Linked DNA regions of Homo sapiens: regions 2, 3, 4 and 5 are each linked to region 1. The links come from fine-mapping of genetic effects on gene expression. A gene starts in region 1. Each other region holds a variant in brackets. All regions are shown on one strand. Distances are from middle to middle.

What was found. PIP is the estimated chance that this variant, and not a neighbour inherited with it, causes the effect.
Region 2: its variant is the best candidate, but not a certain one, in a credible set for the expression of NOL10 in whole blood (INTERVAL, PIP 0.72).
Region 3: its variant is the best candidate, but not a certain one, in a credible set for the expression of NOL10 in testis (GTEx, PIP 0.52).
Region 4: its variant is the best candidate, but not a certain one, in a credible set for the expression of NOL10 in whole blood (INTERVAL, PIP 0.87).
Region 5: its variant is the best candidate, but not a certain one, in a credible set for the expression of NOL10 in whole blood (INTERVAL, PIP 0.78).

The regions. Positions count from the first base shown.
Region 1 is chr2:10,687,072-10,692,201 of GRCh38, forward strand. It overlaps NOL10 (nucleolar protein 10), which reads right to left and starts at 2,904. Exons shown (of 21, transcript NM_024894.4): 1 at 2,725-2,904. The coding sequence starts at 2,790. It also overlaps the pseudogene RN7SL832P. RefSeq lists enhancers at 2,351-2,410, 2,471-2,750.
Region 2 is chr2:10,552,254-10,557,383 of GRCh38, forward strand. No RefSeq gene overlaps it. Among named protein-coding and RNA genes, the nearest start is that of ODC1-DT, 110 kb to the left of the region's middle. The variant G/A (reference allele first, on the strand shown) is at 3,005.
Region 3 is chr2:10,588,425-10,593,554 of GRCh38, forward strand. It overlaps NOL10 (nucleolar protein 10), which reads right to left. Exons shown (of 21, transcript NM_024894.4): 18 at 1,154-1,327; 19 at 619-866. Among named protein-coding and RNA genes, the nearest start is that of NOL10, 99 kb to the right of the region's middle. RefSeq lists an enhancer at 769-1,968. The variant G/C (reference allele first, on the strand shown) is at 2,954.
Region 4 is chr2:10,731,239-10,736,238 of GRCh38, forward strand. All of the region lies in intron 3 of ATP6V1C2 (ATPase H+ transporting V1 subunit C2), which reads left to right. Among named protein-coding and RNA genes, the nearest start is that of ATP6V1C2, 12 kb to the left of the region's middle. The variant T/TA (reference allele first, on the strand shown) is at 2,398.
Region 5 is chr2:10,594,844-10,599,973 of GRCh38, forward strand. All of the region lies in intron 17 of NOL10 (nucleolar protein 10), which reads right to left. Among named protein-coding and RNA genes, the nearest start is that of NOL10, 93 kb to the right of the region's middle. The variant G/A (reference allele first, on the strand shown) is at 2,704.

The DNA of each region.
Region 1 (5,130 bases):
TAATAAAAAGGTAAAGCCCAGAAGGAGAGAAGCAATATTTGCACAGATCAGACAACAACTGGGGTTCCACGTGTAGTTTAGGCACCACACCTCAAAGAAATAACCAGAAAATATTAAACAGGACAAGCAGGGGTTTCCAAATCCACTCAGCTCAAGCTACCCTCCCCACCACTCCACTGGAGCTCCTTGCCAAGGTCAAGGGCGCTCTGCATCATGCCAAAGTCGATGGTCATTTTTCTGCCTTCATCTTACTGAAGCTCTCAGTAGCAGCTGACACAGGTGACCACCACCTCCTCCTTGAAACACTTACTTCTACAAAACTACACATTTCCCAGTCTCCCCTTCCATCAGTGCCCACTACTCTTTCTTCTTTGCTGGGTTCCCCTCCTCTTCTTGGATGACAAATGCTAAGACTGCCTCAGGTCCTCAGCCTAGTTATCTTCTCTGTTCTTTCTCTCACAATTTGATCTCACCTAGTCCCAAATAACGACAGTAAATTCACCTGCAATCTCCATCCTAGTATCCATGCAACTGCTAACTACTCAACATCTCCATTTGGTATGTATTAGAACTTCAAATGTTCACTATTGAAAATAAAAACCTTGGGCCGGGTGCAGTGGCTCATGCCTGTAATCCCAGCACTTTGGGAGGCCGAGGTGGGTGGATCACAAGATCAGATCGAGACCATACCGGCCAACATAGTGAAACTCCGTCTCTACTAAAAATACAAAAATTAGCTGGTGTGGTGGCACGTGCCTGTAGTCCCAGCTACTGGGGAGGCTGAGGCAGGAGAATCGCTTGAACCCGAGAGGTTGCAGTGAGCCAACATCAGGCCATTGCACGCGACCTCAAAAAAAAATCTTGATTCTTTTTGCTCACTACGTTCCTCCTCTCCACCTTTCAATGTGTTCCTTCTTGATTCTTCTCCATGTCAGTTAGCAGCACCACCGTGCACCCACTTGTTCAGACTCAAAACTGAAGAGTTCTCTGATTCCTTCCTTTTTGTCACCTCAACTTCCCTCTACCAACAGTCCAATCCATTAGCAAGTTCCATTACCCTATCTACAAAGTATGTCCTGAATCTCACTGTGTTTTAGCATCTTCTTTGTTACCAGGCAAGCCCAAGCCACCGAAGTCGCTCACCTGGACTACCTAATTCATCCCGACTTGAACCCTCCCCAGCTAGACATTTGTCGCACAGCAGCCCACACAACAGTGACTTCCAGCAGCACTAAGAATAAAACTTGAACTTCCTACCTTTCCTACCAGGCCTACCTCTCCAGCCTCATCCACCCTGCTCTCGCCCCCTCACTCAGCATAGTGCAATCACACCTGTGCCTCTTCCGTCCTCCTACATGTCCAGTGCATTCCCATGTGGGGCTTTTGCACTTTCTGTTCTCAGCACTGAAAACTCTTCCCCACATCTTCACACGACTGGCTCCTCTTCATCATCCAAGTTTCTGCTCATATGTCACCTCTTGTAGAGAGGCCTTCCCCGAAGGTTTTATCCAAAACACTTTCTCTCAATATTTTATCCAAAACAGCTCTCTTCTAATCATTCACCACGAAAAGTACTTTTTGACTACCTTAAATTGCCTTATTTGCTCACTTGTTTATTTCCCTTTTCCCCAACAGGGAACCTTATCTGAAATGTCCACTATAGATCCCAATACTTAAAACAGAGTTGCTTGCACACAGTAACTTCTCAATACATGTGGAGAATGAATGAACAAAATGAGAAAGCTCATGGGGTGTGAAGAACAACTGGAAGACAGGGAATTATTCAAACCAGAATTTTAGGAAGAAAGGAAAAACCTAAGCACTGGCTCCAAATTTTTGTAGAAGCAGACGCATGGAAGGAGAGCTATATTTATTCTGTTTTCCAAGGGCAGGACTCAGGCCAACAGTGGCATGCTATAAGGTGACATATTTGAAAACCACTTTCTAACAAGTGCAGAGTCTCAAAATGGAAATGAGCTTCCACAAAAGGTAGTGCTCAGTGGTAGTGCTTGGACAGAGGCTGGATCATCACGTATAAGAAACAAAAGACAAGTTTCAGAGCCTAAGTGTGTCATGCTGGACAAGTCACCCTTCCCCTTGCTGGATCTCAGCTGCATATTAAACGCATTATTAAATCTCAGCTGCATTACTAAACACGAGAAGATTGGAAGAGAATTACCGACTTGTCCAAGCCCTCTCCAACTTTAAGACTAGGAATCAGGTTAAGTTCAACAAGTCTCGAAAATACTGTCCTCTACACCATAAATTCTGCAGATGCGAAGTCTGTATCTCCCTTGTTCACTGTTGTATCCCTAAGACCTGGCAAATGATAGGGACTCCACAAACAGCTGATGGCCATATGGGGGAGAGATGTGTCAACGAATCTGCCACGTTTTCCTCCTCGATGTACGGCAGGGACTGTGAACACCCAAAGAGGCCCAAATGGTTGCGTTCTCTGGAACAGAGAACTTTACAAAAGTTCCAGCAAAGCTCACTGACCCTGATTATCCCTTGGTCCAGTTTCTGGCGCGGTGACGGCAGTGTCCTTGTCTCCCAATGCCGACACCTCCCCCGGAAATTGTCAGCCGCCTCTGGGCCTCCCCGAGTCGGGGGGTGACCAGCGTCCAGCTAAAACAGAGGCTAGGGCCGAGGAGAGGGGCGGCTGCCCCACGAGGAGGACGACCCCCAAGAGCTCGAGAGTGAGGGGGCCGGGAAGTGACTCACCTCAGGAAGGGACTTGCCGCAGCTGAGGCTGTAAATCTTCACCTCATTGAGGCTGGAGACCTGCATGGCGCCGCACAACACTGTTCAAGTCCCGGGTCCTTTCCCACCAGCGTGCTCGAGCACCGTAATCCCGGGACCTCCGAGCCCCTGCTCCGCGGCGTGCGGCCGCTGGCGCCGACTGATGACGCACTTCCTGGAGCCGGAACACGCGGGCAAGTTCCCGGAAGAGGGAAGGTGGCTGAATCCGGGAAGAGCGGCGGCCGGGAGAAAAACTAGTGAGGCTCTGACAACCCGGCGTGGCTGTCGGCGACGCTGCTACGGGCAAGACTAGACACAAGCCGGGCGCGGTGGCTCACGCCTGTAATCCCAGCACTTTGGGAGGCTGAGGCGGGCGGATCACCTGAGGTCGGGAGTTCGAGACCAGCCTGACCAATATGGTGAAACCCCGTCTCTACTAAAAATACAAAAAAATTAGCCTTGCGTGGTGGCCGGCATCTGTAGTCCCAGCTACACGGGAGGTTGAGGCAGGAGAATTGCTTGAACCTGGGAGGCGGAGGTTGCAGTGAGCTGAGATCGCGCCGCTGCACTCCAGCCTGGGGGACAGAGCGAGATTCCCTCTCAAAAAAAAAAAAAAAAAAAAAAAAACTAGACACAGCTCTCCCTGCTGTTAGCATCCCGAGCGGCAGGAGGAGGCTTTCGAGTCTCTGCCCAGGCCGAGATGTCATCCTCCCGGGCGGGGGCGAGGCAGTTCAGCGAGTGAACCCAGCGAATGAAGGCGACCAGGGTGCGAATTCCGAGTGGAAGTGTATTCTCTTCTCTCCTCCAGTGTTTCTGCGATGTTACGTTAGAAGTACTGTAGGCCGGGTGCGGTGGCTCACGCCTGTAATCCTAACACTTTGGGAGGCCGAGGCGGGCGGATCACCTGAGGTCAGGAGTTCAAGACCAGCCTAGCCAAGATGGTGAAACCCCGTCTCTACTAAAAATACAAAAATCAGTCGGGCCTGGTGGCGCGCGCCTGTAATCTCAGCTACTCTGAAGGCTGAGGTGGGGGAATCGCCTGAACCCGGGAGGCAGAGGTTGCCGTCAGCTGAGATCGTGCCACTGCAGTCCAGCCTGGGCAACAGAGTGAGACTCCGTCTCAAAAAAAAAAAAAAAAAAAAAAGAAGACTGTGGCGTCATCTTCAACCCATTCCTATCTCTGGCCCTCACTTTCAGTATCTAAACCTGGATATTTCTAATTATGAAATATTTCCTTAAAGTAATCTGTTTTCATTCCTCCTGCTGAAACTCAAATACTTAACTATTTTTGGATTATAACTTTCCCAAGTGATCTTCTTACTTCCTTTGATTTAATGAACAAATTATTTTATGCCTTACTTTCTAAAACCCAAATATTATTGTTTTGCTCTCCTACCCACAACATTTTGGAAACTCTCAAATACCAACACCACATTGCATCAGAATTAGGTTGAGAGTTCTTCGTGGACCCTATATCATTTGTCCTTATATTCCCTATCCACCCCATCCACCCCTACCCAGAGTACCAGAACAGTGCCTGGCCTCTATTAGGCATTGCTACATATTTACATTTAGCCATGTACGTAGGGATATATTCCTTAACTCTGTCCTCAAATTTAAGATCCTCCACAAATTTTTAATTTTCTACACTGGTTACAGTTAAGAAAAACTGTAAACATCTTTGGGAAAGGTGGCATAATAGAATGGTTAGATCACAGACTCTGGCTTGGCTTGGTGGTGCAGGCCTATTGTCCTAGCTACTAGTGAAGCCGAAGCAGGAGAATCACTTGAGCCCAGGAGTTCTTGGCTGTAGCACGCAACGAGCGTTGGGTGTCCTCAGTTTGGCATCAATATGGTGACCCCACAAGAGCCAGGGACCACCATGTTACCTAAGGAGGTGTGAAGCGGCTCAGGTCAGAAATGGAGCAAGTCAAAACTCCCATGCTCACCAGTAATGGGATCATGCCTGTGACTAACACTGTACTCCAGCTTGGGCAACACAGCAAGACCCTATCTCTTGAAAAATAAATAAAGATCACAGACTCTGAAGCCAGACTGGCAAGATTCAAATCCCGACTGCCATTTTTAACTGAAAGACCTTAGGTAAGTTACCTAACCTCTCTGTACCTGTGTAAAATGGAGATAACAGTAGTATCCACTTCACAGAGTTATGAGGATGAAATACATTCATATTTATAAAACGTTTGGAACCCAGTACTTGGCACATAGTAAGACCATGTAAGTGTTTGTAAAATAAAACTGAAAATAAAGCCATATACCAAATAAGTGGAAATGTATCCAAATTCCATTAACATTTCCTTTTTAACAGTTTTATTGAGATATAATTAACATACTGTAAAATGTCCCCATTGAATGTACAATGTAATG
Region 2 (5,130 bases), 130 kb before region 1:
GTAGGCAGAGCAGAAGCCCCTCCTTTAGGCCCCCAAGCTCCACTTCAACAAACCACGTGGCTGTAACCAGGGCTTCCAGGTATGTGAGTTTGCCAGGGCTGCTGTCACATAGCACCACACACCAGGGGCTTAAACAGCAGGCACATCCTGTCTCACAGTTCTGGAGGCCAGAGACCAAGGTGTGGGCAGGGCTGGTTCCTTCTGAGGCTGTGAGGCCTCTGCCTTGGCCTTCTAGTAACTTGGGCTGAGCAGGGGGACAGAGCCGGCCTTGGCTCTTAAAGCCACAGGGCCCTTAAGGTGCCCCACAGGCTGGGGCAGGCACCACATCCAGTCCTGGAGCTGGGGGCCTTCAAATTCAACTTGCATCTGCCACCAGCATGCAGCTCGTCACCTCCCCTTCCCAGCCAAGCAGTGACAATGAAGGCCAAAATCCCTGGGAGCTGATGCCAGGTGGAAAACGCCCTCTAGATGAGGAATTGGGATGTGTGTACAATTCGAGGAATCTGATGAATAATTTGGGAGTCACTGAAGTGGGTAAGTCCACTGTATCCTTCAGCCGCGTCATGCACTGTGGAAGAACGCCGGGTGGGTTTCTTTCTCCTTTTTGATACCCACACTCACTGCCTCCCTCAATAATAAAACTGCATCCATTACAGGCCGAATTCCTGCTCCTGGAGAAGACGGGCACGGATGGGTGCAAGGGGCATTCAGGAAGGGGCTGACCCAGGGGGGCCGGAGACAGACAGCAGGGGCACTCAAGGCGATGCCGACAGGGTTCCCAGGGGCACTGAGGATGGGAGCCTGGCGGGTGAGCACCCAAGCCCAGCAAGGTCTACCCTTCCTCCCCTGGCCTGGAGGCTGTGGACCACCACCACACAGGCCCATGGGCTCAGGGCTCTCGGGCTTGCAACAGGACATGGAGAAAAGACTGAGAAGCCCAGCCCACAGTGGGGGTTTCTGGAATGTTCCCTTGGGAATGGAAGGAACAGGGACCTCTGCAAAGGCTGATTTGATTTTGTTGCCAAGCCTTTTATATAAGCCTTTCTCAGTCCCCCCACAGCCCCCCTACACTTGAATTTCTGCTTCTGGATATGTGTGCACAGATGGATAAAAATCAAACATAGAATGTGATGTCCCTCTCCAGAACATGTAAAGAACTACAATTCCTCAATGACAGCAACAGGAAAAAGCCCAGGCTGGGTGCCGTGGCTCATGCCTGTAATCCCAGCACTTTGGGAGGCTGAGGTGGGTGGGTCACCTGAGGTCAGGAGTTCGAGACCAGCCTGGCCAACATGGCAAAATACCATCTCTACTAAACATACAAAAAATTAGCCAGGTGTGGCGAATGCCTGTAATCCCAGCTACTCGGGAGGCAGAGGCAGGAGAATTGCTTGAACCCGGGAGGCGGAGGTCGCAGTGAGCCGAGATCACGCCACTGCACTCCAGCTTGGGCAACAAGAGAGAAACTCTGTCTCGAAAGAAAGAAAAAAAGTTAAACACAGAATTACCCTATGACCCAGCAGTTTCACGCCCGGGTATATATCCAAAAGAACTGAAAGCAGAGACTCCAACAGAGAGTGCACACCCATGTTCACAGCAGTGTTATTCACAGTCACCAGAAGGTGGAAGCGACCCACTTGTCCCTCCGCAGAGGGACGCATCAGTGCAGTGAGGCCCAGTCACACAGTAGATGCTAGTCAGCCATGGGCAGGCATGAAACTCGAATACCTGTTACCACACCGGTGAACCTCAAGAACACTACGTTAAGTGAAAAAACCAGACACAAAGGGACAAACTCCTCGAAAACACCACGTTAAGTGAAAAAACCAGACACAAAGGGACAGACTCCTCGACAACACCACGTTAAGTGAAAAAACCAGACACAAAGGGACAAACTCCTCGAAAACACCACGTTAAGTGAAAAAACCAGACACAAAGGGACAGACTCCTCGACAACACCACGTTAAGTGAAAAAACCAGACACAAAGGGACAGACTCCTCGACAACACCACGTTAAGTGAAAAAACCAGACACAAAGGGACAGACTCCTCGACAACACTACGCTAAGTGAAAAAACCAGACACAAAGGGACAGACTCCTCGACAACACTACATTAAGTGAAAAAACCAGACACAAAGGGACATGACTCCTCGACAACACTACGCTAAGTGAAAAAACCAGACACAAAGGGACATGACTCCACTGATATGAGGCACCCGGAAGAGGCAAATTCATAGAGAGAAAAGTCCAGTGGCGGTTACCAGGGGCTGGGAGGAGGAGGAAATAGAGAGTGTTTTGTGGGTGCAAAGTTTCAGCAGGGGATAATGAACAAGTTCTGGGGGTGGATGTTGGTGATGGCTGCACAACAATGAATGGATTCCTGCCACTGAGCTGCATGTTTGAAAATGGTTAAAATAAGGCCGGGTGCGGTGGCTCACGCCTGTAATCCCAGCACTTTGGGAGGCCGAGGCGGGTGAATCACCTGAGGTCGGGAGTTCAAGACCAGCCTGACCAACATGAAGAAACCCCATCTCTATTAAAAATACAAAATTAGCCTGGCGTGGTGGTGCATGCCTGTAATCGCAGCTACTCAGGAGGCTGAGGCAGGAGAATTGCTTGAACCTGGGAGGCGGAGGTTATGGTGAGCTGAGATCACGCCATTGCACTCCAGCCTGGGCAACAAAAGCGAAACTCCGTCTTAAAAAAAAAAAAAAGAAAAGAAAATGGTTAAAATAGCAGAGGAATTCTCCCCATGCAAGGGACAGGCCATTTCTCCTTGTCTGATGAAAAGTTCTGCAGATGCCCCAGGTGACAGTGTGATGCTTGTTGAGCAGTGGGCCAGGCCCAGCCTGGGATAGGGTCCCAGTGTTGTGATGGAGGGGAGGCTGGTGTCCAGGACGCCAGGGGCACCCAGTGCTCCTTTGGGTGCTGGCTTCACGCGTGGAAGTCGCGCAAGAGTCACGGAGGTAAATTCAAGTTGAGTCATTTGCAGGATGTGCAGAGC[G/A]GGGTGGGCCCTCCAAACTTGGCAACCTTGGAGGAAATGGTTTTATATTTTTTGACTCTCATGTAACCTAGACACTCAGCTGGGACTCTATTTCCTATTTCAAGACTTTTCCAAACAGTTGTGTTTCCAAAGACCTTCCTAAACACACAGCCAGGGGAAGGAACAGGACCTGCTGCTCCAATTCCCTCGGCTCCCAACGCCCCTCAAGTGTTTGCACAGGAAAATGGTAGCGTAGGACACCAGGCGGGCAGGAAGCCGCAGGAATCTCAGAAGCTGCTTTCTGGATTTGACCTCAGGCAATTAAAAAATAGCAAAATAGATGGTGAGTGAAGAGGGTTTATGAGCTGCAGACCCGCAAGGCTCTTGCAGGCACCGAAAGACACAACGGAGAGTCTGCCTGTGCGCACGCAGGCCTAGCAACCAGCATTTGCTCATTGTGCATTCCTGCACTCTCGGGGAACTTAGGGAGCCTCCCGTGGGGCAGGCAGAGGCTGGGAACTAGAGCAGGAAGGCCCGCGGGTCCATCCCATGGTCTCACTCCCTTTCCTCTTGTCCCCTTCCCCTTGGGGCATTCCCAAGGCTGCAGATACCGCTTACCGAGCGGGGCCCTGGCGGGGAGGGATGCGGGCCACAGCCAGATGGGACATCTGGTTGCTCTCTCCCGAAACACCCAACTCATTTCCTTCACCCTGTGTGGCTGCAAGGGCCAGCTGGCCTCCCTCCGGGGGTCCCTCAGCGTAAGCCGGTGGGGAGCTCCGAGGCTTGGTTTCTTCTGTCTCAGCAGACCATTTGCCTTGGTGCCTTATATTGTGTCTTTTTTTTTTTAATGGATTTTAATTTTTCCAACAGTTTTGGATTTACAGAAAAATTGAGAAGATAGTACAGGGAGTTCCCATAAACCCCACATCCAGGTTCCTCCATTATTAACATGGGGCATGAGTCCGGCCCATTTGTTCCGATGAATGGACTGACAGTCATTCTTCAGGTCCACTGTTGGCTCAGATCTCCTCAGTTTTCACCTTAAGTCCTTTTCTGTTCCAGGATCCCCTGCAGAAAGCCACAGGCCATTTAGTCATGGCCTCTTTAGGCCCCTCTGGCTAGGACAGTTCCTTGGGCTTTTTTTTTTTTTTTGTCTCCCTCTTTAGACTGGGAGCTCCTTAAGAGCAAAGGTAAAGCTCGCCCCCGCGAGTCCCCCCATGGTGCCTGACGTCACGCTCTGCCCATCCCAGGCCTCCATGGGTGATGAGAGGCCTGAGTTGAGGCACCAGCCCCAAATGTGTGCGATCACGCCATTGAGCAGGGAGAGATGGGGCTGGGGGGAATTTCACTTGCTTTTGTTACATTTCTGTAACATTTATGTCTTTAAAAATAATCAGCATACGTTTCTCTTCCAATTAGGAAAACTGCAGCAAATCAAGCCGGGAGCTGGGGCCTGGGCAGTTCATGATCTGGCTGGGTTCCCCGCTCAGGCAGTTCACGCGCACAGACCGCCCCCTGGAAGAACTGCGGCTGGAATGAGCAATTCTCCTGAGAAAGCAAAGACACGGACTCACAAGGGAGTTCTGGGCAGAAACGGAGACGGAGATTGGAGTGAAGCGTCCACAAGCCAAGGAGTGCCAAGGAGTGCCAAAGATTGCCAGCAACCCCCAGACGCTGGAGGAGGCCGGGAAGGAGCCTCCCCAGGAGCCTTTGGAGGGAGCAGGGCCCTGCTGACACCTCGATGTCAGACACCTGGCCTCCAGGACGGTGAGAGCGGGTTCTGTTGTTGCGAGCCACCCAGCTCTTGGCACTTGGTTACGCGGGTCACAGGACACCAGTAGAGCCATATCTACTCATTCATTTCAGAAACGTTGTGCCAGTACGTACCAGGCACTTTCAAAGACACCGGGGATACGGAAATAAAGAATAAATGGGATCCTTGCTCTCAGTGGAGTTTCCATTCTAGTAGAGGAAGATGAGCAAAAATAAATAAATGATAACTTCTGTCTGGGCGCGATGGCTCACATCTGTAATCTCAGCACTTTGGGAAGCTGAGGCGTGCAGATTACCTGAGGTCAGGAGTGCGGGACCAGCCTGGCCAACATGGTGAAACCCTGCCTCTACAAAAAATACAAAAATTAGCCAGG
Region 3 (5,130 bases), 99 kb before region 1:
ATTCTAGAATACTACTCTTTTCGATCTCTCAATTTTCCTGAAAAAGACTTAAAATTTCTGGCAAATTTTCCAAGTAACCTTTTCAATAACCAGGTAAAGTGAGATGGGGTAAACATAACCGAGGTTCTAATTTTTTAAAATAACTTTGTGAAGAAGCAGAAAAGTTGTCATCTCCTAGCAACCACTGTCCAAAAGGCTTCAAACCACTGATCTGTAGGGCACAGAGTAAGTATTTGTAGGTGAGGGAACCCCATGGGGAAAAAACAAGGACAAGGAAAGTGTGTGGCTTCTGCAGCTTAAAAGTGTTCCACTGATACTCATAAGGCTCTCTCTACCCTGTATTTTACTGCATGTAAACTATACCTCAAAAAGTTGTGACAAATAAGTAAATCCCCTAGAGACCAATGTACTTCAATAGCGACGCTCCCCTCAGGCCTCCTGGGTGCTTCCCTCACATCACCTCCTGCACGGCCTTACCTCCCCTGCTTCCCTCGTCCCCTCCACCCTCTGCACCTCCATCATCCAAAGACAGAAATGTCATCTTTAGGGCAATGTGCCAGAGAGGAAAAGCAAGGGCTTGGTTACATGTCAACTGTGCGCTCAGGCAGTGCTACTCACTTCATCAGTTTCTGCTTTGTGGCAGAATCTTTGAAGCTTCTAAATTCTTCTCCTGCTTTGATCTCATAAAACTGGGGCTTTAGGACTGTCTGCTGGTCCTCCTTGAGTCGTTCCTGCCGCTTCACTTTTTCCTCCTGCTGGAGGAGTCTGCGTTGCTTCCTGACCTCTTCAACCCAGGCTTTTTCATCATCTGAACTCTCCGAACTTTCTGCATCACTTGGTTTTCCTTCCGGCTCTTCCTCCTCTTCCTGAGAATAAAAATAGTAAGCAGCAACTCCTTTCCCCCAGTCAAACACAGACCCCTTGGTTTCTCTGAAGCAGCACTGGCCCATTAATGAGTGCCTAACAGCTGCTCTACTGCATGCATCAGGAGAAATGCCTTTAAATAAATAAGATAATACTCCTAAGCCCAATGTCAAACACTTAATATGGAATTAATTACATCTCAAGTATAATCAAAGACTCTTCTAACTTACAAAGAAAACATTACATTAAAGAAACAGTAGCAAATTCTAACTGATAAGGAGTACATTACTTTTTCACGAAGTTCTTGTTGCTCTAAGAGTCTTAGTTTCTTCTTCCTTTTTTCACTAATTTTTGAAACAAGTGGATTCAGAAGCCTAAATTCTTCACTCTCTTCATCTACTTGGAAGTCAGGGTTCTCAAACATAACTTTAAATCGATCATCGGTGAGAATATTAGGAAGACTCTACAAGGAGGAAAAAGTACGTAAAAATTTAAGTTAATATCTGACTAAAATTTGACCAGAAACATGGTTTTAAAACACTGATTCTATTATAAGTTAATAAGCGGCATGAGGCATACATTATTAACTCATTATGAAATTTCTTCCAGGACTTTCAACGTGCCCCTAGGTTTTAGCTGCCACCACCAAAACAACCTCTATTAATCTACTTTGCAGATGCTCTACACCACTTGGCCATTACACACAATGAGCCAAGAATGACCCTTTTGGCTAACTTTATGCTTAACAGATTAGAAAGAATTTCTTCAATTAACATTTTAATGCAAAAAAACACCTTTCAAGAAGATACTAGGTTTTTAAAAAGTGGCTTTTATTATTTTTTAGAGATACGGTCTCACTCCAGGCTGGAGTGCAGTGGCACAATCACAGCTCACTGCAGCCCCAACCTCCTGGGCTCAAGTGATCCTCCCACCTCAGTCAGGCTCCCAAGTAGCTGGGACCACAGGTGCACCACCGCACCCGGCTAATTTTTTATTTTTTGTAGAGATGGGTCTCACTATGTTGCCCAGGATGGTCTTGAATTCTTGGGCTCAAGCAATTTCTCGTGCCTTGGCCTCCCATAGTACTGGGATTACAGGCATGAGCCACTGAAAACAGGGCTTTTAAATAAAGCTTAGTTACTACACTGACTTAAAATAAGCAATTCTTTCAACTTCAGATTCCAAAACTGGGAGAGGAGGTATACAAAGTCAGTAACTCACATGGTGGGATGCAGGAAGCTGGTGATGTCAGTTTACCGATTCCAGCTGAGTTACTGGGAAACAGAAGGGACGTTTCCATCCCCTACAGGGTTGTTTCATCAATATTCCCCCTCAGGTCAACTAATTGTTGTCAAAGGATATTGTGTATCCTTCAGATACAAAAACTTTGGCTACTGAGACCCATTTAGATAGCTCAGGACTGATACTAAATTCCTTTTTATTTGTACCATTTTCAATGGAAAGTTTTCTAAACTGTACTGTAAACTTACCTGTTCACTTAAGTAGATGACAGAGAATCTTACACATTTAGGACTGTCTTATTGTTCCTTCTCTGCTACAGGCTTGGAAGCCAGATGAAACGGCTTACTCAGAATTGTTTGTCAATCAGAGTAAACAGCCCTGAACACTGCTGGAAAAAGCTGACCTGTTTGTGATGGACTCTGACTCTGCTGAACAGACTACTTTACTATTTCTCCACTGTTGAGAGTAAACAAGATTGCAGGCAGTTGAGTTCTGAATATTATTTGTGTGACAGACCTATACAAAAGTTTAGTAAATCATAAGATATTAAGGAACTTGGCCTGTTTATTATTTGTATGTACCTAAAAACAGATAAACCCTTACCTAAAATTCTAAGATATTAAATGCAGCAAGTTTCCCTGATTAAACATCATTTCCAAGAAAGACTTACAACGAAGGGAAAAAGAAAGGTAAGATCGAGTTCCTGATCCTAAACTAGTAAGGAAGAAAAAACACTGCAAACACGTGCTACTAGGCCTCTTCTGAGGGCTGCTCGGTAGTGCTGAAAGTGCCACAGGAGAGGACAGAAAAAGGAATCCCAACAAAAGACACCCCAGGAGGGGCCCTG[G/C]GGGGTGCAGCATCAGGGAGGGGGCTTGAAAGATGAGTAGGTTTCAACAAGTAGAAATCTGAAGAAACAGCATTTCCAGCCGATGGGAGTGGTGAATAGTCTGGCGACATAAGAATGATGCAATTTCAAAACAATTTTTTGATTGGGTCATACTGTAAAGGATTTTAAATACCATGACTGTTATTTTGAAGATATAAGGGGAAACCACTAGCGAAGAGGAGGAGGGGGAGGAAGAAGAGGAAGAGAAAAAGGAAGAGAAACGAAGGAGGGAGACAGGGAAGGAGGGAGGAAGGAGAAGATGGATGATCAACAGAAGTGTGCTTCAAGACTCCCAGATGACAGAACTGGCCAGGTGGTGGTTCATGCCTGCAATCTCAGCACTTTGGGAGGCTGAGGTGGGAGGACTGCTTGAGGCCAGAAGTTCAAGACCAGCCTGGGCAACATGGTGAGACGCTGTCTATACAAAATATAAAAAATTAGTCAGGCGTGGTGGTGCATGCCTGTAGTCCCAGCTACTTGGAAGGCTGAGGTAGGAGGATCGCTTGAGCCTGGGAAGTCAGGGCTGCAGTGAGTTGAGATCACACCATGTACTCCAGCCTGCGTAACAGAGAGACCTTGTCACAAACAAACAAACAAACAAACAAACAAACCAACCCAAAATTGTGCTTCAAAAGTCTGCAGCAGCCTGATGTCTGACGGACTGCTGAGTAAGAAGTTAGCATCATGAGAAGACTAAGAAGCCATTTTAAGAAACTGGCAAGAGAGACAGGGCCTGAATTAGGGCAATGGGAACAGACAGTTTTTAAGAAAGAATAATTACGAGATACAGTTCTAAATTAGAATTGACAGATCCAGCTATGGAGATGGGAGGGTTAAGAATTAAAAACAGGGTTAGAAACTTCTCTCAAACATGTAGCTTAAGCAACCAGAAAGCTGGCGACACTGAGTTAGAATCCATCACTGGAGAGCATTAGGAAAAAACGCAGGGGTGGAGTAAAGGGGAAGAAATCACGCTCCATTTAGGGCTGCCTATGCCTGTGGCACAGGGAGAAGAGCACCAGGATTCAGACGGACACCACTAGGTGTCTGGGAACGATGCGCCATGTCTCAGGAGAAGGGAGGGGGCTATGATGTAAATTTTGGAGTTATCTGTAGATATCGGATAGATGATAGTGTGAAAGATAATTTCAAATGAATAACTATGTGCCTATTACACATTTTCAGGTTAAAAAAACCCAAGGGCAAATATTTACTTTTCATCTTACTATATTTATTAAAGTAATAATCATATTTAATAAATAGAGAAAATGTTACAAAGACTACATATGTTGCTGGTATTAAGATTTTTTTCTTAATTTAAAACAAATCAATTGCATTGCCTAAAGACAAGTATGCTTTGGATGAACAACTATAAAATAAAACCTCTTCTGACCCAGCTTGTAAAAATATTTCCCTCAGGGTTTTTTCCTAGTCTGTTTGTTTTCACAGCTGTCTTAAGGAAAAAAGTAGGATAAGGTATAGCTATTAATGTTCTATAGGAGCTTACAAGTGTCTGGCTAGTGATCCGTCCTATAAATACCCGTCTACACATGCTCAACTTTACCATTAAAATATAGAAAACATTAAAGTACTATTCATACCACAGTCCTACCTGGAAGAATGGTATCTGTCTACCTGAGTGGGACGCCTATTATTATTTTGTTCCAACATAGTAACATATATGAAGAATGATTGCCATTTGAAACAAATTAGTTTTTTTTTTTTTCTTTTTTTTCTTTTGAGATGGGGTCTTGCTCTGTCACGCAGGCTGGAGTGCAGTGGTGTGATCTCGGCTCACTGCAACCTCTGCCTCCCGGGTTCAAGCGATTCTCCTGCCTCAGCCTCCTGGAGTAGCTGGGATTACAGGCACGCGCCACCACGGCCGGCTAATTTTTGTGTTTTTAGTAGAGACGGGGTTTCACCAGTTGGTCAGGCTGGTCTCAAACTTCTGACCTGGTGATTCGCCTGCCTCGGCCTTCCAAAGTGCTGGGATTACAGGCGTGAGCCACTGCACCCCGGCCAATCAAATTAGTTCTTTCAATGCTATGATACCTATGAAGTTAGGCTGGTACAGACTTCTGAGTAAAGATGGTGGCTTGAACACTAGTATCTTCTAATCTCTCCTAAAACTTCACTAG
Region 4 (5,000 bases), 44 kb after region 1:
ACACCTAGCCACCATTCATAGTCTTTGAGAAAGAAAACTAATCTTTGGCTCTCTCATTCATAAAATCTGTCTGCTCTCAGACGAATGAAGGGAAGTAAAATCATGCTAAATCAAGTATTATCAAATCTCAGGGCCTGTCCTGTAAAAGTTAATATCCAAGAAAAAGTGACTTGATCCGGAAATGTTGACTCCCTTCTTAGGCTTCTCTGCACCACAGGGAGGTATGACTGGCCTTGTACAACTTATGGCCTAGCTGAGAAGACACATATTAATAAAATAATCACATCACATAATCAAATAATGCTAAACCTAAGAAAGGCCTGTAACAGATGCCATTGAGAACAGCCCACTGCCCTAGGCTAGTGAATGCCTTAGGTTTTCCTGGGCAGCAGTGACAAACCGCAGAAGGAGACTGGTCTCGTGCAGGAAGGTTGGCTTAAGAAATGTGAACTGGGCCAAGCGCAGTAGCTCATGCCTGTAATCCCAGCACTTTGGGAGGCTGAGATGGGTGGAATGCTTGAGCCCAGGAGTTCAAGACCATCCTGGGTGACATGGTGAAACCCCATCTCTACAAAAAATACAAAATTTAGCCAGGTGTGGTGGTGCATGCCTGTAGTCCCAGCACTTGGGAAGTTGAGGAGGGAGAATTGCTTGAGCCCAGGAGGTCGAGGCTGCAGTGAGCAGAGATCACACCACTGCACTCCAGCCTGGGCAACAGAGTGAGACCCTGTCTCAGGAAGAAAAGAATAAAAGAAAAAAAAAAAGTGTGAATAGTTCCCTACCTGCTGCAGAAATGGTAGCAATTCTAGAGCTGTCTTTGCTACCAATTTTCTGTCCTAGTGCAAGTCTTTTAACCTCTTATTCACTAAAACCCCTTTAGCTCTGAAATTCTGTGATCCTGGATTGTTATTGTTTCCATTTTAGTTTCTTTCTTGCTTTCTTGCTCTTCTTGCTTTCTTTCGCTTTCCCTTCTTCCCTCCATCCCTCCCTCTCCCTCTCTCTCTCTCTTTCTCTCACTCTTTCTCTCTTTCTTTCTTTTTGACAGAGTCTTGCTCTACTGCCCAGGCTGAAGCGCAGTGGCGTGATCTTGGCTCACTGCAACCTCCGCCTCCCGGGTTCAAGTGATTCTCCTGCCTCAGCCTTCCAAATAGCTGGATTACAGGCACCCACCACCAAGCCCAGCTAATTTTTGTATTTTTTTAGTAGAGACGGGGTTTCCCCATGTTGGCCAGGCTGGTCTCGAACTCCTGACCTCAGGTGATCCGCCAGCCTTGGCCTCCCAAAGTGTTGGGGTTACGGGCGTGAGCCACCATGCCCAGCCCTACTTTAGTTTCTTTTTTGTCTGTTTGCTCTGTTTCCCCAGTAAGTATATTAGTGTTCTGTTCTGTACATACTTGTTGCACAAGTTGCTTTTAGTGGTAGTATAGCATATGTTTAAGAAAAAGAAATGAAGGCCAGGCGCGGTGGCTCACGCCTGTAATCCCAGCACTTTGGGAGGCCGAGGCGGGTGGATCATGAGGTCAAGAGATCGAGACCATCCTGGTCAACACGGTGAAACCCCATCTCTACTAAAAATACAAAAATTAGCCGGGCCTGGTGGCAGGCGCCTGTAGTCCCAGCTACTTGGGAGGCTGAGGCAGGAGAATTGCTTGAAACCAGGAGGTGGAGGTTGCAGTGAGCCGAGATTGTGCCGCTGCATTCCAGCCTGACGACAGAGCAAGACTGTCTCAAAAAAAAAAAAAGAAAAAGAAATGAAAATGCGTGAACAGGCAAGACTGTGGCTATAATTGTGAAACAGATAGAACCTGTGCAAATTTAAGTGTTTTCTAAACAATAAGGACTAGGTGTGGCAAGAATGAAAAATCACTGTGCATTGTTTTCGTTTTCCTTGTGGGTATATATTCTTAAGAGCCTTCCTATCAGGGGGAAGGAAAATGGTGTGGTCTGAGCACGTCAAAATTCTAATCTTAGCTTTTTTCTAGTCCAGGGGTCAGGGTGTCCTGTGTTGGGAGTTGGTAGAGGTTGGGGTAAAAGAGTGGGTTATATGTACTAATAAATCTGGAGAATGGCATCAGTTCTTTGAAAAGTCCTCGAGTGTTATTAGGTAAATAAATGCTAGCTGGGTCTGTAACCTCGGTAGCATAAACCTGTCAGCACTGCTTCTGCCCAGGAGAACAGAGAAGGCACAAGCGTTTTCAGGGTGTATTGTTTCAATATCCTTTTATTATTTATTTACTTAGGGCACTAGAGTGTTTTTCCATGTAGTTGGAAGGCAGCTTTTGCTTACGAGAGCTTTCTCTCTCTTTTTTTAATTTATTCCTTCATACTGCCTTTGTTAATTTATTCTGTATTTGCCCTATCATTCATGAACATTTGAAAAACCAAATGCTATTATCT[T/TA]AAAAAAAAAAAACCTCTCTCCCTGTTTTAAAAAAAAAGTTTGAGTCCTTCACAGTATCTTAGCCTGTTTTGCGGTGTTGATTGACAGAGTGCATTTCCCAGGCGCTGGGGCGGTCAGCGGGACCTCAGCAGGACCTTCTGGGTGCTGTGGTGCTTGGTGACCGTTGCTTGCCCCTAAGTGCTTCCCCTGTCGTTGCTTGCCCCTGAGTGCTTCCCCTGTCTATGGAATAGCTGCTGGCTTCTTCTTTACCCACATGGTTCCATGGAGCTGACTGAGGGTTGGCTGATCAAAGATTTCATAGCTGAGTGTGGATGTCTGCTTAGTGATACGTGTGAGTCAGTTCTTGTAAGGGCATTCTAAAGAGAAGTAAACTGGAATTGTAAAAAGCATATAGGCTTTTCTTCTCTGTTGGTGGAAGAATGTCAGATTGAGATGACCTATGTGGCATTTCATGGGATTCAGTGAATAGACCGCGGTTGCATGTCTCTGTATGCCGCATGCATGGTGGGTTGCTCTAAGCTGCTGGCAGCCCTACTGTGTGTGTCTGCTGGGCTCCCACTTTCCATGGCGGCTGTTCCAAGCCTCTTCACCCCTCCTCCTCCCATCTGCCCCTGCTGAGCCCTCTTCCTCCTTCCCAGCTCCTGGAGACTCTTTTCCCCACCTCTTCCCACACCCTCTACCATCACACTCACAGATTTACCCTCTCTAACACACCCGGTGCTCCCCTCTTTCATGGCACTTGCCACAGTGGATTTTGACGTCTTCTTGTGGGATTATTTGGTCATATTTTTCTTCCCTGTCTTTTGCTTATGATTAGATCCCTAGCACCTGTAACATGGCGGCCCTTGGTGACTGATTGAATGGATGAATAGAGGGAAGCATCCTGGGTTATAAGAGCTGGGCAGCCCGTTAGAGATCTTATCTAACCTGCAAGAGTTCCAAATGAGGAAACAGGCCCAGAGAGAAGATCCTAGAAAGACAAAGGCAGACAGGGGTGGCAGAGGAGGGAATACACTCCAGATCCATCAACTTGCCATTAATGGTCTGCCTGTCTGGGTCCATCTGCCCTGGGGGACTCTGTGCCCTGGGCTTTCCACGATGCTTCCAGCTCGGAGTCATCGGTAGAACTGACCAGAAAATGGCCTTTTTCTCTTCCATTCCACCCTCCTCCCCGATTGTACTATCAATCATTGTTACTTATGAAAACACTTAATAGTATTTATAAATCTAGACATTTAAAATGGCTTACTGAGCCTGGGTAAAATAGCAAGACCTCCTCTCTACGAATAATACAAAAAATTAGCCAGGCATGGTGGGGTGTGACTGTATGCCCCACTACTCAGGAGGCTGTGGTGGGAGGATACCCTGAGCCCGAGTGGTTGAGGCTGCAGTGAGCCGTGATCGAGCCATTGCACTCCAGCCTTGGCAACAGAGTGAGACCCTGTTTGAAAAAAAGAAAAAAATATATATTTTGACATAAATAAAATATCTTGTTAAAGTTAATTTAACCTGTTTTTACTTTTTTAAATGTGGTGACTAGACCTTTTTTTTGAGATGGAGTCTTGGTCTGTCACCCAGGCTGGAGTGCAGTAGCATGATCTTGGCTGACTGCTACCTCCCCCTCCTGGGTTCAAACAAATCTCCTGCCTCAGCCTCCCAAGTAGCTGGGATTACAGGCGTGTGCCACCAGGCCCAGCTAATTTTTGTGTTTTTAGTGGAGATGAGGTTTCACCATGTTGGCCAGGCTGGTCTTGAACTCCTGACCTCATGTGATCTGCCCACCCCGTCGGCCTCCCCAAGTGCTGGGATTACAGGTGTGAACTGCCACGCCCAGCCTTAGACATTTTTTAATTACCCACGTGGCTTGAATTATATTTCTATGCACAGCTTTGGGCTGGAGCTCTAGAGAATTATTATCAAATTTGGACATGTGAACAAATCTCCTGGTCTTTTTTTTTTTTTTCTCTCTTTTTTTGAGAAAGGATCTTGCTCTGTCACCCATGCTAGTGTTAGTCATGATCACAGCTCACTGCAGCCTTGAACTCCTGGGCTCAAGCCATCCTCCTGCCTCAGCCTCCTACAGGAGTGTGCCACTATGCCTGGCTAATTTTTTTTTTTTCATTTCTCTTTTGTAGAGATGGGGGTCTCTTTATGTTGCCCAGGCTGGTCTCAAACTCCTGGGCTCAAATGATACCGCTGACCATGGCCTCCCAAAGTACTAGGATTATAGGCATGAGCCACTGTGCCAGGCCCTCCTGGAGACCTTGACAAAATGCAGATTCTGACTCAGTGGATCTGGGCTGGAGCCAGGATTCTGCATTTCTTGCAAGCTCCCCAGTGATGCTGGTGTTGCTGGCCTGAAGACCACATTTGGCATACTAAGGCTGAACACGTTAACTCACGGCTCTCAAACTTGAGTATGCATCAGAATCATCCTGAAGGTTTGTTAAAAATACATCACTGGTCTCCACCCCGAGAATCTGTGATTCAGGAGGTCTGAGTTGGGGCCTGAGAACCTGCATTTCTACGAGTTCCCAGGTGATACTGATGCTGCGGGCCCTGCCACTGTGCTTTGAGGATAGCTGCTTTGAATGGTAATGAG
Region 5 (5,130 bases), 92 kb before region 1:
ATATATATTAGCTGGGTGTGGTGTGCACCTGTAATCCCAGCTACTTGAGAGGCTGAGGTGAGAGGATCACTTAAGCCCGAGAGACTGAGGCTGCAGTAAGCTATGATTCTGCCACTGTACTCCAGCCTGGGTAACAGGCTCTATCTCAAAAAACAAAAGTACAACAATGTAATGCTGAATACCAACTTAATCAAAATCACAATATAGCTTCCTTGGAAAGGAAAGTTATCAAAAGATAATGCCTAACACTAAAAAGTTAAGAGGTAGGACTACAGGCAAGAGGGAGGGAGGGGGAGGGGGCAGAGAGAGAGAGAGAGAGAGAGAGAGAGAGAGAGATTTATACCAAAATAATCAGCAAAAAAGGCAAAAGTGGTTGTCTGAGAAGAGGTGAAAATGGAGGAAGGCAGAGGGAGGAAAAGGGGCAGACAATGGGATGGCCTACATTCCTAACAAACCTTGGAGAAATGTTTAGGTTTTTTTTGTTTTTGTTTTTGACAGAGTCTCACTCTGTTACTGGGCTGGAGTGCAGTGGCACAACCATGGCTAACTGCGGCCTTGCAGGGAGATCCTCCCACCTCAGCCTCCTGAGTAGCTGGGACCACAGGCATGCACCACTACACCCAGCTAATGTTTTGTAGAGATGCGGTTTCACCATGTTGCCCAGGCTGGTCTTGAACTCCTGGGCTCAAGTGATCCTCCCTGCCTTGGCCTCCCAAAATGATGGGATTACAGAAATGTTTTTTTGTTTTGTTTTGTTTTTGTTTGTTTGTTTGTTTTTTGAGATGGAGTCTTGCTCTGTTGCCCAGGCTAGAGTGCAATGGCGTGATCTTGGCTCACTGCAACCTCTGCCTCCCAGGTTCAAGCAATTCTCCTGCCTCAGCCTCCCAAGTAGCTGGGATTACAGGTACGCACCACCACACCCAACTAGTTTTTCTATTTTTAGTAGAAATGGGGTTTCACTGTGTTGGCCAGAGTGGTCTCAAACTCCTGGCCTCAAGTGATCTGCCTGCCTTGGCCTCCCGAAGTGCTGGGATTACAGGTGTGAGCCCATAATGTTTGTGTTAGGCACTGTGCCCAGACTGAAATGTTTAGTTTTTAAAACTATGCATGTATAACTGTAATTTAAAAAAAACAAAAATTTTAATTGATACTAAAAAAGCTTTAAAAATAATATTTTGGATGTTAAAACTGACCTGATCCAACCCAAAGTATCTGTACCTAATTGTATTCCCTAGAGAGATGAGGTATTACTTTAATATAAGTTCTCAGTGGTATTTAGTAATTCCTGAAACTGCTAAAATATCTCTTCCATGGGTTCCTAACCACAGAATACACATAGCCTAGAACAGTGATCCTCAACCTTTTTGGCACCAGGGACTAGTTTCGGAAGACAAGTTTTCCACAGATGGTGGTGGGGGGCGGGGGGCGGGCGCGAGGGAGTTTTGGGATGATTCAAGCGCATTACATTTATTGTGCACTTTATTTCTATTATTATTACACTGTAATAACAATGAAATAATTATACAACTCGCCATAATATAAAATCAGCGGGAGCCTTGAGCTTGTTTTCCTGCAACTAGAAAGTCCCATCGGGGGCTAATGAGAGACAGTGACAGATCATCAGGCATTAGATTCTCATAAGGAGCTCGCAACCTAGATCCCTCGCATGCGCAGTTCACAATAGGGTTCATGCTCCTATGAGAATCTAATGTGGCCACTGACCTGACAGGAGGTGGGGCTCAGGCAGTAATGTGAGCAATGGGGAGTGGCTGTAAATACAGATGAAGCTTGAGGTTCACCTCCTGGTGTGCGGCCTGATTCCTAAAAGGCCCCAGACCAGTACCATGGCCTAGGGGTTGGAGACCCCTGGCCTAGAGATCTCATGCACAGTCCTGCCTGAGCTGCTGCAGAATGAAAGAAAAGTACATTCATCAGAGACTTTAAGGCCACAGCAAGAAACTGACAAAAAAGACTAACATACAAAAAATGATACCTATAGGAAAAATAGCTCTAACCAAAACTCAAACCCTCACAAATCAAACAGATCACAGATGCCCATGCCTCTCAAAGCTGTTTGTGCATACTGGAAATTCAATACATATTTGTTGAAAGAATAAATACATTCATTCATTTTTTTTTTTAAAGAGATGCTGTCTTGCCCTGTAGCCCAGGCTGCAGTACAGTGGTGTGATCATGGCTCACTGCAGACTCCAACTCCTGGGCTCAAGTAATCTTCCTGCCTCAGCCACCCAAAGTATTGGGAATACAGGCGTGAGCCACTGCACTCGGCCTTAATTGTTAACTAGAATTAATGCAACCAAAATTTCTGAGTTTGGATAATGTCCATATAATACTGATTGACATTATGTGGTGGGCCACTTCCCATTTTAGGTTCAATATCAACCATACAGTAAACATCTTATTCGATTTTTGTGTTCTCAGTGGCAGCAATATTTAGGAACACATTTCACTGTCTCCAATAAATTTCAGCTGCAGACAAGGCAAAACATACCTTTCAAATTGGTATTGCAAGATACCTACTTTCAAATCAGGAGGTATCACAGCTAGTAAAGTTCTCAAGCTTTTGAGGAGCTGAGTTCAAAGGCGAGACTAATGATCTGCTGATGAGACTTAGCAATTCTTTCAAGTAGTCTTTTAAATTATAATGAAGGATTCTTTCCTTAATTCATGAGTGATTTCTAC[G/A]ATCTTCACTTTACATAAGATGAAACTGTTCAACAACAAATTATACAAACTTTTTCCAAGCACAGCCTCAGATTTTCAAAAGACCATATATAAATATTTCTGGAATGAAACTGAGCTCTGATAATAGGTCTGATTTGGGCTAGGAAGTCACCAACAAGAAGATTAGGGGCACATTTTACAAATAGTACTCTTTGGAAGAATTCTGTTATCACGTGATATGGCTACAAAGATCACATTTCCAGCTATGAAGAGCTGAAGAGAAACTGCTGTTTGATGGAAGAAGATAGGAATTTCTAAGGTTCTTCCTCCTTTTCACTGGAAGTAAAATGGTACACAGCTTGGTAATTCTTTACAGGGTGACCCACCAATAGGTTTTAAAATAATCAAATGCCATCCTGATAGTTAATTAGAGAATATGTAGCAACAAAATGAGTGAACATCAACGGAACGTAGATGTGACTGGAGATAACAGAAAGGCAAGTTCTTGATTCGCACGGTGCCAAAAGGAAGGAGTAGCTAAGGAATGCAGTTAAAGAATACCAGGTGCCCCAACAAGACGGTTCAAATTTCAGTTATCTCTGTTCATCAACTGAGTATGTTCATAAAGTATAACTCCACAGCGAGCTCTTTAGTCCACAAATCCCTACGTAAATAATGGGTTGCTTTTCTCAAAGCCTGTCAGTGACCGGACACTGCATCAGGCGGTGTGATGCACCGTGAATTTCCTGTTCAGTTCCTGCAGACAGGACGCGTGTGTAACTGTTGCATTGCTTCTTCAGATACCGAAGACAAACTCGTGTGACATTTACAAAAAAGAATAATTTACAGAGAACTAATCAACAAGATAAAACTGCAACAACAAAAATGTGAATCAAATTTAAAGGGAGTTATAGAAGAAAGAGCTGGCTGTGGGAATACAGGGAATGTGGCTACTGTCACTGGCTGGCACTCTAAGTCTGTAGTGAGGGGACCACGTAATGGTGAACCTCTGAAAACAAATGAGGAAAACAGCTGTGACAAGAAGAAGAAAAGTGTCCCAGTGGAAGTGACACTGGCAAAAAACTTTACATGAAAGGAACTCTCAGAGACAATTCATAACGTCAAAAGAGCAAAGGATGAAACATCGGAAGCTTATCCAAACTTAGAAAGTGAGTATGACAATTTGCTGAGGCAAAGAAAAATGCTGGCTCCGTATCAAAAGTTTAGGAGGAGAAAAAAGTAAGCACTGTTCCAAGTACTATTGACAAAAGAAATAAAAGAAAGAAAATAAAATACTCAATTAGGCTTTATTCCTAATGTTTTAAATTACAATATAATGAAAAGATCCTAGTTTTCCAATTTATAATGGACAGTAAGAGAGTTTTTAATGTTTTGTCAAAAATGTTTAAAGGCATGGAACAATGCTAATTTTCCCACCTGACCATGAGGATTGCTCTGCATGTGTTCAACTTGTGAGGTCATTTCCACCATCCTGCACTATGGGGTATTCTAAATCTTCTCTGGCTGCCCTCAACCTCAGCAAAGGTCTACAAAGAAATGGGGGGAAGGGAAGGGCACTTCTGCATCTAGATAATCACAGGGCCTTATAAACAGGCTCTGGTATAGCATGCTGCACAAAGTAGCAAAATTAAATTGTAACTTAAGTATTCTTGCCTCTATCAGATGATAAAGACTCTGGCATAAAACACAGATAGGAATGCAAACATCTACAGTCTAAGTTAGCTCTACTCTCTATCTACTGAAGCCTTAGGGCATGGCATGTACATCCAAAGATCACTTCCATTTAGCTTTTACTGTAAAATGACATTACAAAGCAGAAAAGTTACCTCCCTAATCATGCTTAGGCTTAGCTAACAAGAAGATCAGTGTGAATACTCTGAGGAGAGAGTCAACACAGCAGCAAAGACTTGTATTCTAAACACTTAAAGATATATATATTCATTTATACACATTGGTGTAACTTAGGAAGGTGCAGAGCCATTACACACAGACATAAATTCAAATATTAATAAGTTTGAGGAATTATTTCAACATTGGCATACTATTCATGTCATGAAAATGGAAACCTAAAAGTCCTCTATTTACTTGAGAGGCTTCCAGAAATTAAAATTTAAACAATATACTAAAAGAATGTAATAAACGAGGATGAGGGGATGCAGGGAAAGACTAAGGAAGCAGAAGACAGCAAGGGGGAGTCTTGAGTCTGAATCCATTTGGAAAGCACAGCTCTAAGAATGCCCATATCCGGTCCTTGCATGTTACAGATGAAAAAACTGTGACCCCATGAAGACGAGCAATCGCCCAAGATTACATAAGCAGTGTGCCAAGAGCTAGGAACAAGACCCTTCAGTTGCAGTCCCTGGGTATTGAAAAGCATGAACAGAAATGAAGACAAAAGGAGCTCACCCATCTTAGATGCACGTACCT